Linked DNA regions of Homo sapiens. The protein of the gene in region 2 interacts with the protein of the main gene of each other region in a pairwise test. Each region holds a gene or a part of one and is shown on either strand. Other genes may lie near its edges.

Region 1 (3,500 bases), on a different chromosome or scaffold from region 2:
TGGCTCACGCCTGTAATCCCAGCACTTTGGGAGGCAGAGGTGGGTGGATCACCAGGTCAGGAGATCGAGACCATCCTGGCTAACACACTGAAACCCCGTCTCTACTAAAATACAAAAAATAATTAGCCGGGTGTGGTGGTGTGCGCCTGTAATCCCAGCTACTCAGGAGGCTGAGACAGGAGAATCGCTTGAACCCGGGAGGCGGAGGTTGCAGTGAGCCGAGACTGTGCCAGTGCACTCCAGCCTGGCGACAGAGTGAGACTCCATCTCAAAAAAAAAAAAAAAAAAAAGAGAGATTTTCTGTAAATGAGGGAAGCAAATGCAAAGAAGGCACGGGGCAGAAGGGAGGCTGCTATAATTTGTCTGGGGGTCAGAAGAGGTGACCCTTACCCAGGGTCTGAAGGATAAAAATAATTCCCCAGGAGGAGACAGCAGGTGCCAGGCACAGTGAGAAGCTCTGGGCCACTTGTGGTCAGATGCCTCCTACTGGGAGGACAGTCAGGGTGGAGGCCGGCTAGGTGGTGAAGGGTTGTGCCCGGGAGGCCCTGGGGAGCCAGGAGGGCTGTGAGCGGGAGGAGGGGCAGCTCTGGGTTGGGGGTCCTGGGGGCTCACCAGCCAGGATGAAGTCCAGGAGCTGGAAGGCTGTCTTGAAGCGGGTGCCGGCAATGCGGGTCTCCTGTGTGTCCAGGACGAGGAAGGCCAGGCAGCTGAGGAAGGCCAGGAAGCCGGCTCCCACGGCAAAGCTGCAGGCCACGCTGTTGCTGTTGAGAATGCAGTGGAGCTGCGGAGACTCCATCTTGTTCTGGTAGCCGTCGGTCAGCAGGGAGGAGAAGACGATCAGGGAGAAGACCTGTGGATTTCCAGGGGCCAGAGAAGAGCTCAGTCTCTCCCTGAAGCTGCTCCTCCTTCCTCCCTGGTGCTGTCGGTCTTTCCGTATACCCAGTCACTGGTCCGTCTGGACCTCTCCCTCTTTGACATTGTCACAGTGTCAGAGCCCTCAGCTTCCTGCCCCTCGTCCCCTCTGCTCCATCCTGGCTCAGGCCTCGTCTGCTCTCCTTGGCCCTTGCCCCAGCCTCCTCCCAGCCTCCCCACCTCCAGTCTTCCCCACCTCAGCACATCTCCACCATGGCCCCAGGGGAGTCTTTCCACACCCTGCCCCTCCCTGCCACAGCCCCTCATGGCTCCCCAGTGCCTCAGGACTGAGTCCCAGCCCTGAAGCCTGGCCTTGGAGGCCCTGCAGAGTCTCCGCTTCCCTCACTCTTCCAATTTCATCTCTCCTCACTCACCCCTGCCTCCCCCACACTCTCCTTCTGCCACCAAACCCAGGTACCCATATAAAATGCCTGGCACAGTGCCCGGGACATGGGAAGAGCTGAATCAGTGTTTGCAGTCGTGATTATTCTCTCTGCCTCTCAGCTCTTCCCTCTGGGGTGGTTCTGAGGACTAAACGAGAGGAGGCACTTAGAGCCCTTCCCTCTGCGACTTCTGTCTCTTCCCTCCTGGCCTCACTAATTCCTATTAATTTCTTAGGTTCATTTGCAAGATAGTCCAAGCATACAGAAAAATACGAAGAGAAACATAAGAAACACCCAGTGTCACCTGGCCAAACTAACACATATTAACATTTTGCCTTGTTTTTTGGCTTCGGGATTTTGTTTTAGACAAATACTACGACACTGATCTGGTAACCCTGTCCCTCTCGTCTGTTTTTTTTTTTGGAGACAGAGTCTGGCTGTCACCCAGGCTGGAGTGCAGTGGCGCCATCTCGGCTCACTGCAGGCTCCGGCCCCCGGGGTTCACGCCATTCTCCTGCCTCAGCCTCCCGAGTAGCTGGGACTACAGGCACCCGCCACCATGCCTGGCTATTTTTTTTTTTTGTATTTTTAGTAGAGACGGGGTTTCACCATGCCAGCCACGATGGTCTCGATCACCTGACCTCGTGATCCGCCTGCCTTGGCCTCCCAAAGTGCTGGGATTACAGGCGTGAGCCACCACGCCCGGCCATGCCTGTCTTCTATGTGTATTTGCTAAAAAAACCACGGAAACACTCTATAAACACTCACCCAGGTCATCCTTACAGCCACCCTAGGACACGGGCACTACTCACAGCCCTGTGTTTCAGATAATGGAACTGGGGCACAGAGAGGATAAGGAGTTGGCCGAATCCAATTAGCTGGCCAGTGGCTGGGCGAGGTGGCTCATGACTGTAATTCCAGCACTTTGGGAGGTTGAGATGGGAGGATCGTGTCAGGCCAGGAGTTTGAGACCAGCCTGGGCAACAGAGCGAGACCCAGTCTCTACAAAAATATTAAAAACAAAAATAGCTGGGTGTGGTGGTGCATACTTGTAGTCCCAGCTACTTGGGAGGCTGAGGCAGGAGGATCACTTGAGCCCAGGAGGTTGAGGCTGCAGTGAGCCATGATCATGCCACTGCACTCCAGCCGAGGCGAGAGAGCAAGACTCTGTCTCAAAACAAACAAACAAAAGGCCAAGCACAGTGGCTCACATCTGTAATCCCAACACTTGGGAGGCCAAGGTGGGAGGAATCGCTTGAGCTCAGGAGACCAGCCTGGGCAACAGAGTGATACCTAGTATCTACCAAAACTTCTTAAAAAAAAAAAATTAGCTCAGTGTGGTGGCATGCACCCGTAGTCCCAAGTACTTGGGGGGCTGAGGTAGGAGGATCACTTGAGACCCAGAAGTCAAGGCTGCAGTAAGCCCTGATTGTGCCACTGCACTCCAGGCTGGGTGACACAGTGAGGCCCTGTCTCAAAAAAAAAAAAAAAAATCAGCTGGTCAGTGTCAGAGCCTGGATTTGAACAGAAGTAGCCTGGCTTCTGAGTCTGCCCTTGACCTCTTGCTCTTCTTCCTCACACTGGACCACGCGCCTTGAGGGCGGGGGCTCCTATCAACGAAATTCGGTGAAAATTTGAAGCCCCAGTGATTTGTCCCAGATGGTCACAATGCAGCAGGGCAGGTCTGTGCCAGACAAAGACGAGCTGGTGTGTAGATGGGGTGGTGGGGAGGAGGCTGGGGCCTGGGGTGGGGGAGAGAGTCAAGGTGGAAGCCAGATTGAGGGCTGGATTTCAGGTGAGTTCTGAACTGGACCTTAAAGAACAAGGAGTTTCTCAGACAGACAAGAGGAGGAAGGGCATTCCCGGCAGGGTGGATGGCATGTGGAAAAGCCAGATGCTGCAGAGCGGGCAGTTTCAGAGATAAGAGAGAAACTCACTGGAGGGTTCTGGTGTGAGATGAGGCTGGAAAAGTGGGTGGGAGCCAGGCTCTAAGAGGCCCGGAACACCAGGGCCAGGAGCCGGACTTGGGGAGCCATGGAAAGCATTCAATATTATGCATGGGAGGATTCTGTGCAGGGGACAGCTGGGGTCAGCCTTGGGGTTAGAGAAGCCCTCTGGGGTCACGTGGCTGATGGATCGGAGGTGGGCAAGACAAGAGGCCAACATACCTGAGAGGAGGCGGGGAGGCCCAGGTGAGAAAGGCTG
Region 2 (3,500 bases):
TTGAAATCACAAAAATGTCCACGTGTGCTGAAATTAAAATAGCTTCTTTTTAGAAGCTTGCCCCCTTGCCTTGTAGCGTGCTGGGCACATGCTGGATCCAGTCTCGGGTTCTAGCTGGCTTATCACACACCTCCCTGAGAGACTTGGGTTGCCTTGCTCACCCCTTGCTGCCTCGGAGGCCCCATGGAAGGGCCCAGCTCACTTTAAGCCCCAGCAGCATCCTTGGCATAAGTGTGCCAAGGCGGCAGGGGCTACCCTGAAGGACAGAGCTCTTCTGAGGGCAAAGGTCAACTGTATTTGCTTGGGGAAAAAAAGAACAAGAAATCAAACATAACAGCTGCAAAGGTGTTGTCCATGATATTAGCCACAGCTGAGGAGGTGGCACAGTTTTCATCAGAGCAAGTCCTGGTGGATCAACCCCCACCGCCCCGTTTCCCTTCTCACTTCTTCCCTCTTCTCCGGGTAAAGGGCTCTTCCATGCTGCCCCTAAATGCAGCAGCTGCTGGGGGTGGAGGGCAGAGAGACGGAGAAATCCCCCTTGGTTTCTGTTTCTAGAATGAAAGCAGACCACACACAAGGTCACTGCTGGGAACTGGGGCAGAAGGTGTGTCTGGGGCAGGCAGAGAGGTATGGAAGCCAGTTCTTCCCAGAGGCGGGGGGAGGGGTTAACGACAGCGCCATGAAGGCCAATCTGGCCTCCTGCACCCCAGGGCAGCGCTGTCACCTACTCTGAGCAGAGCTGTGGACATAAAACTATATTCAGACTGGGGCTCCCTGAGGACGGGGCTGTGTCTCCCCTCAGACTGGAGCTTCCTGAGGATGGGGCTGTGGCTCCCCCTTAGGTGAGGGATTCCTGACAGTAAGAGTATCTTGTCCCCTCCCTACACCAGATCAGGGCTTCTAAATACCTTCGAGCCTTCATCCCACCCCTGCAGGCACACACAGTGCAAACTACCCAGACTTCTGGCCTCTCCCACGCCTCGTATTTACAGAAACCATAACTGTGCCAGGTTCTGGGTGGTCGTGGGTGGAGGGGAATGCAGGGAGTATAAAGGTGACTGCAGGAGCCCTGCCTGAGAGAGTCTTCAGGCTACTCGGGGGTCAATGCTTTACAGGACAAGTGACATAACAGGGAAGGCAGTGGGTGAAAGTGTTCAGGGAGTGGTTGGGGCAGGGTTCAGTGCAGACTCAAGAGGCCTGAGGGATTGGGGACTGTGAGGTGGGGCTGGGGTGAAGGGGGTTGGAGGCAGACTGGGCTAGCAAGGAGGAGGGCGGGCACTTCAGCAGGAGGGCACAGCAGGGAAAAGGTACAAAGGTGGGGACATCAGTGCTCCGGAGAGCAGAGGAGAGCTGTGGACTGTTATCAGGAGGATTTTTTGGGGCAGGGAGAGAGTGGTGGTGGGCCCTGGGACAGATGGGAGGTTCTGGTCTGGGGAAAGACTGAGTAAATGAGGCTAGGGCCACCCAGTGCCATAGGGCCTGGGTGCCCAGGTAACATAGTGGAGGCTGAACAACCCTGGCCTTGGGCTCAGATCTGGGCCTGGACCTGGGTCACCCAGATATTAGGTTTGCAACCGAGTGCAAGAGTTGTATGTTTTAGGCTCAGCTTACACTTGTGCAAAAGGGAACAGCAGCCCCTCCCCCATGGGATGGCTGTGGGGACTGAGTTAATGCTTAGGATGGTGGGCACATGGAGAAGGCTCAGTCAATGGCAGCAATCCCCATGATTTCTACTGTTTAGTGGAAAGGGCAGAGTGGGAGGGAGTGACCAGGCTTCCTGGGGACTGGGGCCCCACCCCTTCCTCACTTCTAGGATCAACATATTCCCAGAAAGAGGAAATGAATATATGTTCATGTCCAATGACCAATCATTCTGCTTAATTTGTGAGATCTTCCAGCAGTAACCACAGCCAATGGCAAAGTGAAGCAGGGAGGAAGCTTTGGACCCCATGCCCTGTGAGGAGGGGCAAGGCCCTGCCCACCAGTGTCCCCCACTCCTCCATTTCATCCTCCCACAACATAAGTCCCTGCTGCAAGCCTGACAAGGTGGGGCTGTGGGTTCTGGGTAGCGGGAAGGATGCAATCCAGATGTCCCTGTCCCTCACAAGGCAGCAGAGCTGACCAGGAGAGCAAAGCAGCGGTCAGAGGGGGTCTAAAGGGCCATGGGAAGGGCAGGATGGCAGTTTCTAGAATCAAGACTTGACAGGCTTCATGGGATCTCTCTGAGGTGGATGAAGGCACGTGGAGACGACACCTGGGTTGGAGGTTACAAGAAGGAAGGGGCATCCCTCAGATTCAGGAGTTTTTGGAGGAAGCAGGAGACAGGAAAGAGGACACCAGGAGGGAGTGGTGTGGTCTACAGGAAGGAGCACTGGACAGCGATTTATAAGTTCTTGGTCTAAATCCCAGCTCTGTTAATGCAGGACTGTGGGACACGATTTATCTTTTAGGACCTCAGTTTCCTCATCAGTTGCCAGTTCTGCCGTCCATAAAATGGGCATATCATTCTTCTCAAACTGCACAGATCCAACAAGATAAAGCAGGTGAAAATCTTTGTGACTTCTCAAGCCCTGTACAAGCAGGCAGCGTTGGAAGGAAGGACAGCAGAGAAGGAAGCAGGTGGAGTGGAAGCCCCCGGGGTGGTGGGCTTTCCAACACCCCAGGAAGGGGCTCCCTCTCCAAACACTGGCTGCCAATCTGAAAGGCACTCCTATTTCTCAGTGCGAATAAGTGTATCAGATTCTTTCTTTCTCTGGGGACCATTTTGGTGACGGGAAGGAGGTGGCACAGAGGTGGGAGACATGCAGGAAGGCCTCTCAGAAGGAGGAAGGAGGGATTCCAACTCAAATTTCTGGAGTCCCCCAACTAAGTCCAGCCCTTCAGGTTCCCTGGCATCTCCTCCCAGGACCCCAACCTCCTTCCTCTGTGTCACCTCCCAGAAGTCAAATCACCCCTTCCATCAACAGACCCCTGTCTCTTTGACCGCCCCTTGTTTTTCTTTCTTTCTTTCTTTTTTTTCAAAAGCTCAGAGCTTACAATCCATTTTTTTTCCCTAAGGGCTTTAGATATCTGAACGAAAGGACAGGAAAAGGAATACTACACACATGTTCTTACAGTCACAAAAACCCCCACGTGGACACACGGTCACACGCATCATCACACACGCCCCCAAGCACATTCCCAATACTGAGACACTGACACAGACTCTCTCCCACCACACACAATCACTCACAGACTGCCAGGTACACAGTCGCATGCTGAGACACTGTCCCCAACACACACACACAGAGGAACACACAGACACTCTCACATGCACACTATCTCTCCTGCACATATAGACACACACTAGTTGACACCCATTCACACACCAAGATGCCCCCCCCCCCACACACACACACAGACCCTCCCACAGACACAGTATCATATGCAGGGTCACAAAAACATAGACACTGTCAGATGTACAGTTGCATGCTGAGATGTTGCACACACAGGGACTCATT
Region 3 (2,384 bases), on a different chromosome or scaffold from region 2:
ACAGGCGAAGAAGGTTCAGGGCCAGGTGGACAGTCATGTCTCAATTCAGGAAAGAGAAGTGCAGGCAGGATTGGGTGCGGGAGAGCCAGGCCCATCACCAGCACCGAGTTAGGGGTCTGCAGAGCTGATTGGAGGGTGGGTTTGGAGGGGCAAGGAAAACAGCAGCAGGCACTCCTGGAGTGGCCGCCTGTCCCCCTGCTCTCAGAGGGTACCTCCAGCTCAGAAGGACCCAGTCTGAGTCCAGGGTTTTCCGTGGAGAGGATGGAGAAGCCTCAGTCCGCCAGCCCTCTCCCCAGTAGAAATGCAGAAAGCTCACAGCTGGAATTAGGGAGAGGATGGGGATACTAGTCAGTGAGCCAGCCTCCCCCGACCTAAGGCTAGAGGCCCAGAGATTGTTTTCCCATTGACTCTTCATTTTCCACTGCCCAAGGATGAACTCAAACACAGGAGATAGGAGATGATTTGGATGAAGTGATAAAGAAAAGGCTTCACTCCAAGAAAAAAAAGAAAAAGAAAAGAAAATGAAAAGACCTGCAGGAGCAAGAAGCCCTTTCCAGGGTGTGCTTATGAGGAAGAAGGGAATTATGGTGATAGCTACCACTTAAGCACTTACCTTGTTCCAGGTGCAATAACGGTGTTTTACAGGCATTATTTTATTTAGTCCCCCAAAATAAAGCTATTACGTACCTTTTTATCATTACCCCTAATAAAACTAATGATTAGACTGTTTAAAAACCTACCTGGGTCATACGGACAGTTACCAGTGGACCCAAGATTCAAACCTTTGTATTTCAGAGTCCAGAATATATATTTTTACCCCTACTTTGTAGGATAAGAAAATGCAGCCCAGTCAACCAGCCAAGGTCTACCATTTGCTATAGGTGTGTGGCCTTCGGCAAGTTATCTAATCTTTTCCTATCTCAGCTCCTTCCTCTAAAATATCAGGATAATGGTATCCACCTCTATGGGTCGTGGGGAAGAATAAACAGCATGATATGCATAAAGTCTCTTGCACAACCTAGCTGCTCAATAAATGGTAGCTTTTATGCTTGTCTTAAAAATAACATTAAGTTAATGTGAAATAGTCATTTTTGTAGGCCAAAAGTGGTCATATAATAACAATTTCATATGGTTCAACCTAATAATAATCAGGCCCACCTCTATGCCCCAAACTAGGTTTCTGCTTCTCTGACAGCCTGCCCTGGCTGAAAGTAGAAGGCGTGAGGGGATTGATGGTATAGATTGCAGAGGAAAGGCTATGGAACGGAGAGGAATTCAGCCTCTGAGCCCTTTTGTTGCATTAACATTACTTGCAGTATTAGTGTGGGTCAGGATGGGGATGGTTACTATGAAGTTAGAAGGACATTTCTCCTTTGATCTGGCTCACTGGCTTCTAGGAATTTGCCTCCTTCTTTTTTTTTTTCTTTTCATGAAGTCTTCCACTGCTTTGACTATCTTTTTCTTCTAGGACACGAGATGACCAAGGTTTCACATAATAATGGTAATTCAGTTCTGCACATTAGCTCTCCCTGCCATCATCCATCCGGTTCATAGAAGTGGACAGGATATGAGGAAGGCTTCAGTGATCACTGTCCTAGCCAGATTCTGCCCCAGGACCACAAGCTTAAACTCCAGATGCCCAAGCCCCGGCTTATAAATGGTTCCCCTCGCCATGTTTCCCAAGGTTAGCCTCATTTCCTGGGCTTCACATTCTTCAATTCGTGCTCAAGATGCCCATAATCGATTTAAACACAGTTAAAAGGAGTTACATTTTGGTAGAAGAGTCAAAAAAACAGAAAGAAAAAAAGAGTTACAAAAAGGCAGGTATGGTTGTGGAAAGGCCAAACACAGGTCTAGGGTGCTCAGAAAAGACTCCTTTGGAATGTTTTATTCTTAGAGCTCAAGTCTTTCTTGGGATATCCTCAGGGAACAGTGAGGCTTCTTCTCAAGAGGGTGACAACCATAAAAAAGCATTCCTGACCTACCTTTCCTCCTTGGCCTCGCAGCTGTGGAGGAGTGGGAAGGTTGAGTGGAGGAAGGGATATCTGCCTCCAACCACGCTAGACCCGACCTGCTGTCACCGCCCGCCCCAGCTGGATCCAGAATGGAAACCTGGAATAGCAGGCAAAGCCACCCCCGACACTCCATGTTCCTCCCCAGAACCAGCTCCCTCTCCTACCAGCTGAATTTTCAGGACAGAGCTGCCAGGTGGCCAGTCCACAGGTGGAAGTGGAAGGAGATTGAAAGGACCTGGGAAGAGGTTCATTGGTCATGGTGCCTGGCTGGTGCTTTCCAAAGCCAAGGTTGCTGGTGTGTGCCTGACAGTTCCATAGGAAGTAGGGACTTCTGGGAGGGAGGAGGAGGTGGAAGGTGCCCTGGTCAGC
Region 4 (3,282 bases), on a different chromosome or scaffold from region 2:
CTCTCTCTGTTATTTAGGTTGACACTTTTTATGGACTCATGTAGGATTATTCTAAAAACATATGATCGTGTGATCACAGCATCATGCAAATCAGTGTGTATAGTATGCTGCTATTTGTGGGAAAAGGGGGCAGAAATACTTTTTCACACTTTTGTATGCAAAAATGTCATGGTAGGATTTATAAGAGACTGATAATATTACTTTGCATCTGCAAGGCAAATAGGTGGTTGAGGGAAAAAGATGAGCGATAAGGTTTTAAAGGTATATATACCCTTTTGTATCTCTTAACTTTTTTATGTGTAAAATCACTATTGATTTCCAGTGCCATTGATATCTGCACTGGGAAGCCCCTTTGAATTTTGACAAAGACACTGTTTTTTGTTTGTTTGTTTGTTTGTTTTTGTTTTTTTTGAGATGGAGTCTCACTCTGTTGCCCAGGCTGGAGTGCAGTGGCAAGATCTGAGCTCACTGCAACCTCAGCCTCCCAGGTTGAAGTGATTCTCCTGCCTCAGCCTCCTGAGTAGCTGGGACTACAGGTGCACACCACCGTGCGGATTTTTGTATTTTTAGTAGAGAGGGAGTTTTGCCACATTGGCCAGGCTGGTCTTGAACTCCTGACCTCAGGTAATCCACCCACCTCAGCCTCCCAAAGCACTGGGATTACAGGCGTGAGCTATTGTGCCCAGCTGGGATCTTGACAAAGACACTATTTCTCTCCTTTCACCTGTGCTGTGTATTTTTCCCTCGCCTAGTTCCCAGACCTCACTGCTATATGTCTTCTCCCTGGCAGGCAGGATGACGCAAAACACGGTGATTGTGAATGGAGTTGCTATGGCCTCTAGGCCATCCCAGCCCACCCACGTCAACGTCCACATCCACCAGGAGTCAGCTTTGACACAACTGCTGAAAGCTGGAGGTTCTCTGAAGAAGTTTCTTTTTCACCCTGGGGACACTGTGCCTTCCACAGCCAGGATTGGTTATGAGCAGCTGGCTCTAGGGGTAAGACTGGGGTGGTGCGGGGTTGGGGGGCACGTTAACGAGGTGATGAGGTCAATTAAAATATAGAGCCAAATCTTCAAAATTAAAACGTTTTATTTGGGAGGAGAGAATTGCAATTTGGGGCATACACACAGACCAGGTGGTCTCCAGTATGTCTTTAGAACAAAGAGAAGGTTAGAGGCTTATAAAAAGGAGAAATGTTACATATTGCCCTTCATGAAAGATCATAGGTTTTGGGGAGCTGGTGAGCTCTGATGGGTGAGCGATGGCATGAGTAAAACTAATCCTAGAGTTGTAGCAAGGTCAGAAGCTGTAGATAAAGCTGGTTTCAGGTTGCAGCAGGCAGCTTCAGCAGCCTGATTTGTAGAGAATTACATTTTGGGAGCAACATTTTGTGCCCCGAGTGCTTTTTGCCCCTGGCCTCTCGACTCTGTTTTAGTTGAGTGTGACAAGAATGACCCCATTTGTAGGCTCAGCTTTCACAGTGGAAACTCTCCTTCTTCAATAGGATGCAAAAGAGGAAAGTGGGTTGAATTCCCATGAGAGGGACATGAGAAATCACTATTTATATCTCATTCTGTGTAGGAAAAAGTTGTAAGTGTCCCCACAGAAATTTGGATGGAAAGGAAGAATCGACCTCCTCTTTGGCACAGAGGAGTCGGTCCCAGCCAGAGGTAGGGCAACAGGAAGAACAGTCTAGAGGCTGTTAATTCGGTTTTATTGACCCCACATGGACTGAAAGCCTACAGGTGCAAGGCAATGTGTTCAGCACTTCAGGCCAAGCTACAGAGAGAATCCCTGGGCTATATCTAAAAGTACTCAGTGACCATCAGAAGGAACAGCAGCTACACTAATGACTGGAACTAAAGGTAGATCAGGTGAGGGAGAAGCACATCTGACATCCTTGAGGGCAGGAGAACCCTGAATGGAGAAGGAATAGGTATAGACAGAGGTGGAAGATGGACAAAAAAGAATTCCAGGTTAAAGAATGGCAGGAGCAAAGGCAAAGAGGCCAGAAGGCATAGGGCAAGTTCTATAATGGTTAAGAGTAAAGGGAATGGGCTTCATGAATGGGTGATTTGGGCCCATATTGCTGAGAGCCTTGAACGACCAGGTGAGGAGTCTGTCCTGAATCAGCTTTGACAGTGAGAACGCTGTCAATGGATTCTGAGCAGGAACCTGCCTCAGAGTCAGGAGGCATCCAGGTGAGAAGGATCGAGGATCTGCACTCACATAATCATAGCAGAAATGGTGAGGAGACAAAGGAGTCCCTGTCCTTCACAGACCTCCATGGCATGGGAGTGAAGGGGTTTGGGGCATAAGGAAAGAGAGGCATTCACAGCATGCAGAGAGGGTTGAAGTGTGGGTGACCAGGAGATCGGAGCCCTGAAAGTCAGGAGGAGCAGCCATTCGAGAGGTGTGTGTGTGTGTGTGTGTGTGTGTGTGTGTGTGTGTGTGGTAGTAGGGGATTTGGATGTGACAAATCCGAGATGCTGGTAGGATGTGGAGGTGGTGACAGTTGGGTTTTCCAGGAAGAAGAGGAGTTCTCTTCTGAGTCGGAGTTGGGTGTGTGAACGGCTTATTGGGGTATGACACCTATGAAATGAAAAGAGGGGGAGCAGGATTGAGCAGGAGGAACCATCAGGCTGCAATGCAGACTCTGCCAGGCCAGTGGGGGAGCTCCCAGGCAAAGGTTGCCCACTGCAGGAGTTCCACACTGGGTGGAGATGGCCCTTGAGCCACTGTCTTGCTTAATCATTGGCTGGGGGGCCCTCCTCAGTGTGTGTCTTCAGCTTGAAAAATTAGGGTGACCCTGAAGGAGCTGACAACTGCAGGCTGTCAGCAATCAAACAAGCCCTTTCTTGAAGGAGGTCTCAGCGGCACTTCTTTGTGTCTGCCACAGAGCCCTCAAGAGTGTGTGTTTGGATCTGAAGAGAAAGGATAGGCCAGAAGCTCAGGTCAGGCTGGGGGTTTGGATGGGACAATGGGACCTCTGAAGGAGAATGGGGGGGGAAAAGTGGGAATCTTCAGGTGGGATGAGAAAGTGTTGAAGTTGGGAAAAATTGATGAAGGATAAATAGCCAAGCCTATGAGAAGGGTGAGGGGAGACCCAGGCCAGTGCTGCTTCATGGATTTTAAGGGGACAGAATCTTCCAGAATCAGAGCTGCAGAGAGGTCAAGGCAGAGGAAAAGGAGAGGAGAGCCACCTAGGTAGGAGCCAGGCAGCTGGTCCCAGGGCAGCCGGGGCATGTGGACTCACGGGAAGGGGTCTGGTTTCTCATC

The links. The genes of interacting proteins can lie anywhere in the genome.
Region 1: the proteins of GLP1R (region 2) and SYNGR4 interact in a protein complementation assay, tested with the Homo sapiens proteins (one study listed by BioGRID).
Region 3: the proteins of GLP1R (region 2) and NRGN interact in a protein complementation assay, tested with the Homo sapiens proteins (one study listed by BioGRID).
Region 4: the proteins of GLP1R (region 2) and TMEM176B interact in a protein complementation assay, tested with the Homo sapiens proteins (one large-scale study listed by BioGRID).

Annotation. Positions count from the first base shown.
Region 1 is NC_000019.10:48,370,867-48,374,366, reverse strand, and holds part of SYNGR4 (synaptogyrin-4), read right to left. Parts: intron 851-3,500; coding exon 613-850; intron 1-612.
Region 2 is NC_000006.12:39,051,781-39,055,280, reverse strand, and holds part of GLP1R (glucagon-like peptide 1 receptor precursor), read right to left. Parts: intron 1-3,500.
Region 3 is NC_000011.10:124,742,942-124,745,325, reverse strand, and holds part of NRGN (neurogranin), read right to left. Parts: intron 1,065-2,384; exon of another isoform or gene 431-1,064; intron 1-430.
Region 4 is NC_000007.14:150,794,083-150,797,364, reverse strand, and holds part of TMEM176B (transmembrane protein 176B), read left to right. Parts: intron 1-790; coding exon of another isoform or gene 791-795; coding exon 796-999; intron 1,000-3,282. UniProt on the Homo sapiens protein: May play a role in the process of maturation of dendritic cells. Required for the development of cerebellar granule cells.